Linked DNA regions of Homo sapiens: region 2 is linked to region 1. Evidence: fine-mapped QTL for protein levels in blood plasma. A gene starts in region 1. The other region holds a variant in brackets. All regions are shown on one strand. Distances are between the middles of the regions.

Evidence for each region. PIP is the posterior inclusion probability: the model's chance that the variant is causal. The UK Biobank Pharma Proteomics Project read protein levels with antibody pairs (Olink). The fine-mapping took linkage between variants from a reference panel, not from the people measured, so its PIPs are less certain.
Region 2: its variant is fine-mapped to the plasma level of the CA6 protein (UK Biobank, PIP 0.93).

The regions. Positions count from the first base shown.
Region 1 is chr1:8,944,270-8,947,178 of GRCh38, reverse strand. It overlaps CA6 (carbonic anhydrase 6), which reads right to left and starts at 1,311. Exons shown (of 8, transcript NM_001215.4): 1 at 1,214-1,311. The coding sequence starts at 1,292.
Region 2 is chr1:8,967,829-8,970,737 of GRCh38, reverse strand. All of the region lies in intron 6 of CA6 (carbonic anhydrase 6), which reads right to left. Among named protein-coding and RNA genes, the nearest start is that of CA6, 23 kb to the right of the region's middle. The variant C/T (reference allele first, on the strand shown) is at 1,083.

The DNA.
Region 1 (2,909 bases):
TTTGGCTCACATGTGGACCAGAACCCATGTTGAATGCCAGGATTTTACATTTCACATTTTAAAAGTCTGGTTTGGGGCCTGGCGCGGTGGCTCACGCCTGTAATCCCAGCACTTTGGGAGGCTAAGGTGGGCGGATCACTTGAGGTCAGAAGTTTGAGAACAGCCTGGCCAACGTGGTAAAACCCCATCTCCACTAAAAATACAAAAGTTAGCCAGGCATGGTGATGAGTGCCTGTAATCCCAGCTACTTGGGAGGCTAAGACATGAGAATCGCTTGAAACCAGGAGGCAGAGGTTGCAGTAAGCCGAGATGGCACCACTGAACTCCAGCCTGGGCAACAGAGCAAGACTCTGTCTCAAAAAAAAAAAAAAAACAAAAAAAAAAACACCTCTCATTTTGGCAGCCCACAGATCAAAGGGAACTGGGTCCTTATGTCAAGATGTTCTGGGTAAACTGCCTACCATGAAATTTCCAAGAAAGAAGGTCTCGCAAACCCCACAGCACCTTCCGTGAGGTTACCGAGAGTCTTTTCTAAGAACTTTGTTTTCCACTTACACGGACCAACAAAGCAAATGGTTTTACAAATAGAAGCAGTGAGTGTGCTTTTGAACCAGCCAACACTGTGGATGGAAAAAAATTTAAAGCAAAAAGCCTGTAAGTAAATCAGGAGTTTGTGAAGGGGAAAGCTATTTCCTTCTTTTCCTTATTTGAAGTTTAAGTTCAGCTTATTCTCCATACCTTCTGAGACACTGAAAAGGTAACATCTGAAGCCACAATGAGCAGACCCCCAACATATGGCAAGTGGGCTGCCTGGCCATCCTGTGAAATGCCCTAAAGGAGGACTCTTGGCCGGGCGCAATGGCTCATGCCTGTAATCCCAGCACTTTGGGAGATGGGCAGATCACCTAAGGTCAGGAGTTCGAGACCAGCCTGGACAACATGGTGAAACCCTGTCTCTACTAAAAATACAAAAATTAGCCAGGCATGGTGGCAGGCACCTGTAATCCCAGGTACTCGGGAGGCTAAGGCAGCAGAATCACTTGAACCCGGGAGGCGGAGGTTGCAGTGAGCCAACATCACACTACTGTACTCAAGCCTGGGCAACAGAGCAAGACTTTGTCTAAAAAAAAAAAAAAGAAGAAGAAGAAGGGCACTTGTCCTGTTGTAAGGGTGTGAGGGTAACTGGGGGAGCATGCAGAAGCTAGGGGCTCACCTGAGTAGGTCCAGTCAGACACATGCTGGGCCTGGCCACCCAGCAGGAACAGGGACAGCAGAAGCACCAGGGCCCTCATGGTGCTGCACATCTGTAATGAAGACTGATTCCGGCGAAGCTCTTCTTTTAAAGGCTCAGAAACTGTAAATAACAATTTACAATTGATCTGCCCAGCTGGCTAAACCACCCTTTGCTGCACCCACTAAAACAATAACACCCTCCCCATAACAGCACTTCTGGCTCCGTGCATTGCGCCAGGCAGCCCCAGCACCTGCCTGATCTCCTCCCACGTCAATTTCATATCCGGTCAGTCCATGGGTTTGGTTGTTCAGTGTCTTAGGAACACCTGAAGAGCCACACAGTGCAGCCATTGTGGACAGGTGACCGCGGAAATGGGAAAAGGCCCAAGGCAGGGAGAAGCAGGATGAAAGACTTTCCTGGACGTCGGACTTCCCATGCTCTTTCTCCTGACATTAGAGATCTGGGGACTGCTGATGGGATCACCACTGCCTGCAAACCCTGCCCATCTCAGTCATGGACACAAGCCACCGCTGCAGACATGTGGCTGCCCTCAGCCAGGCATCCAGGGAGGTGGCCTGGCCTCCATGTTTGGACATTTCACGGTCCTCTCCTTAAACCAGTGGTTGATCCTGGGTCCCAGCTCATGAGCCACATTCCAATGTGTGCCTTTATGCCATTCAAGCTGGTGTGGGCGTCTGCATTTCTACATGGATTTGTTCTGACACCTGCAGGGCTCTTGGGCACACCTAAGCCAATCAGCCAATTGCCCTCGCAGGATCCATGGATTACCTAATCCTGTGTATTCACTTGGCTAGACAGTCCCTGAAATTAGCTGAAGGAGAAACTTTTGAGTTTATGCCTGCTGACAGGCCAGCATTTCCCATGCCCTTCCACAAGGTCAAACACAAAGGGTAGCCGGAGCTCCTGCGGGGGGGCTACCATGCTGCCGGACACAAAGGGCCACCCCTGCCTTGTTATGGGGAGCTGAACCCCCTCCTGGCCTAGCTTAACTCATTGTCCACTTGGTCCTGGAATGGCAAACGTCAGCAGGCCTTCACAACAAGGATGTTAGCGGTGAACGTAGGCCTCCCGAATACTTCTAAGACTCCCCACTGTCATTTAATAGGGAACATCAGCTGCTGCAAAGAACTTGCTGGAAACTTCCATTTCTAAAGCTCAAGAGCTGAAAGAATCTCAGAGAGAGAGCAAAGCATGTTCAAGGACAAGGATTCTGAAACTAGACAGGATCTGTGCCACCTGCTAACTGTGTGACCATGGGCAACTCAGCGCTCTGTGCCTCAGCTTTCCTTCCTTTTCTTTTTTCTCTTTCTTTCTTCCTTTCTCTCTTTCTTTTCTTTCTCTCTTTCTCTCTTTCTTTCTTTTTTGAGACAGGGTCTCTCTCTGTCACCAGGCTGGAGTGCAATGATACGATTTCAGCTCACTTCTCTTGGACTCAAGCAATCCTCCTGCCTCAGCTTCCCAAGTAGCTGGGACCACAGTCGCATGCCACTACGCCCTGCTAATTTTTGTACTTTTTGTAGATACAGGTTTTCACCATGTTGCTTAGGCTGGCCTCAAACTCCTGGACTCAAGCGATTCTCCCGCCTCGTGCTCCCAAAGTGCTGGGATTACAGGCGTGAGCCGCCGCACCTGGCCGCCTCCTTTCTTTAAAAGG
Region 2 (2,909 bases), 24 kb before region 1:
CTTGAGCTCAGGAGTTGGAGACCAGCCTGGCCAACATGGTGAAACCTCTTCTCTACTAAAAATTAGCTGATCATGGTTGTGTGCACCTGTAATCCCAGCTACTCAGGAGGCTGAGGCAGGAGAATCGCTTGAACCTGGGAGGCAGAGGCTGCAGTAAGCCAGTATCACGCAACCGCACTCCAGCCTGGGAGACAGAGAGAAACTCTGTCTCAAAAAAAATAAAAAATAAAAAAGAATTAACAACTGGGCTAGAGTTTGGATTTATATAACCCTGATGAAGTGACTGTAAGAAGATCTCAAGTCCAGGGGAGGTTCTGGGTGCTGTGTCTCAGGCATTATTCCAGAACTAATCTATCCGTGCATTCTTCCAACAGGTATCTGCACACAAGCTCTCTTTTCAGCTTTTTATATGAGTATTTGTCCAGTAGTAGAAAGGAGAGAAAGAAGAAGCAGAAATATATCAAGTGGCAAACTCAATTTTTGTTTTTCTGAAAATGTCAGGTTTTTCTCTTTTTTTTTTTTTTTTTTTTTTGAGACCAGAGTCTCGCTCTGTCGCCAGGCTGGAGTGCAGTGACGCGATTGCGGCTCACTGCAACCTCCACCTCCCGGGTTCAAGTTATTCTCTCCTGCCTCAGCCTCCTGACTAGCTGGGACTACAGGCACCCACCCACACACCCAGATAATTTTTATATTTTTAGTAGAGATGGGGTTTCACCATGTGGGCCAGGCTGGTCTCAAACTCCTCAGGCCATTCGCCCACTCAGCCTCCCATAGTGCTGGAATTACAGGTATGAACCACCTCACCTGACCTGAAAATGTCTGTATTTTGTCTATATCCTTGAAAGGCATCTTTGCTGCACATACAATTCTATATTGGCTATTTTTTTTCCCTCGGCACTTTGAAATTATGTTTCCACTCCCTTCTGACTTTCACTGTGGCTGTTAAATCAACTCTCTGTCTAATAATACTCTTTTCATGATAATCTGTCTTTTCTTTCTGGCTAATTTTTAAATAGTTTCTTTGTCTTTGATGATTTCAATGTGATGCGTTTACTGCAGGATGTTGTGTATACACACACACA[C/T]ATATCTACACACCCAGAGAGAGAGAGAGACAGAGAGAGAAACTAATTGGCATTCTTGAATATATGACTTGGTATCTCTTCCTGAAAATTGTCAGCCAATATTTTGTCAAATCATGCCTCTTCCCTACTCTGCCTCTCTTCTCCTTCTAGGATTTTGATTAGACATTTACTAGACCTTTCCAGTACACAATGTCTCTTCACTTCTTTTCATAGTTCCATCTCCTTTTCTCTGTGCTGCATTCTAGATAATGTTATTGGCTGTCTCCAATTTACTAATTCTCTCTCAAACTGTATCTAACATGCGTTAAACCCATTCATTGGGTTTTTGTTTTTGTTTTTTTGAGATGGAGTCTTGCCCTGTTGCCCAGGCTGGAGTGCAATGGCATGATCTCAGCTCACTGCAACATCCGCCTCCTGGGTTCAAGCGATTCTCCTGCCTCAGCCTCCTGAGTGGCTGGGATTATAGGTTCACACCACTATGCCCGGCTAATTTTTTGTATCTTTAGTAGAGACAGGGTTTCACCATGTTGGCCAGGCTGGTCTCGAACCCCTGACCTCGTGATCCACCCGCTTTGGCGTCCCAAAGTGCTGGGATTACAGGCTTGAGCCACCGTGCCCAGCAAACTTTTTTTTTTTTTGAGACAGGGTTTTGCTCTGTTGCCCAGGCTGGAGTGCAGTAGTGCAATCTTGGCTCACTGCAACCTCCACGTCCCAGGTTCAAGTGATTCTTCCACCTCAGCCTCTGGGGTAGCTGGGATTACAAGCGCCCCACCACCACGACTGGCTAATTTTTTGTACTTTTAGTAGAGACGGGGTTCCACCATGTTGGCCAGGCTGATCTCAAACTCCTGACCTCAGGTGATCCACCCACTTTGGCCTCCCAAAGTGCTGGGATTACAGGCATGAGACACCACAACTGGCCTGGATTATTAATTTTTGATACTATTTTTCCATTTCTAGAAATTCTATTTGAGTTTTTGTCCCAAGTCTGGATGTCCATTTTTATACTTTTTTGCTCTTTTCTCATATTTAAACCTTTTATTTCTTTATACATGTTAAACATTCTTATGTCATATTAATTGTCTGATAATTCCACTAACTGAAGTCTTTGTAGGTCTGATTCTGCTGGTTCTCATCTATAATGTCTTTTTTTCTCATATGTTTTGTATTTTTTTTTCTTAATTGAGCTAATTTCAAGTAACTTTATTTGTGAAAATTCTTCTAGGTCTGGATTTAAGGTCATTTTCCCAGAGATAATTTACCATTTGCTTTTGTCAGGTGTCTGGGGGCACTTCTAGCCTGACTGGCAACATTTTGGAGTGTGAGTGTCCTTGAGCAGGGGTCTTTTCCACCTTTTTCTAAGGAAATGAAAAGTTTAAGAAAAGGAGATGGCCGGGTGCAGTGGCTCACACCTGTAATCCCAGCACTTTGGGAGGCTGAGACAGGCAGACTGCTTGAACCTGGGAGTTTGAGACCTGCCTGGGCAACATAATAAAACCCTGTCCCTACTAAAAATAAAAACTAGCCGGGCGTGGTGGCACACTCCTGGAGTCCCAGCTACTCGGGAGGCTGAGGCAGGAGAATTGCTTGAACCTGGGAGGCGGAGGTTGCAGTGAGCTGAGATCGTGCCACTGCACTCCAGCCCAGGTGACAGAGCGAGACTCTGTCTCACAAAAAAAAAAAAAAAAAAAAGGTTGGCTAGACGAGGCACAGTAGCCCTGCACACAGAAAATACTGTAGGACCCCTTAGTTGTTGACGTTCGTTGAGATGCTGGGGAGAACCCTTGTTAACCAGGCAATCGAATGGGAAGACTTCGGCAAAGTGAT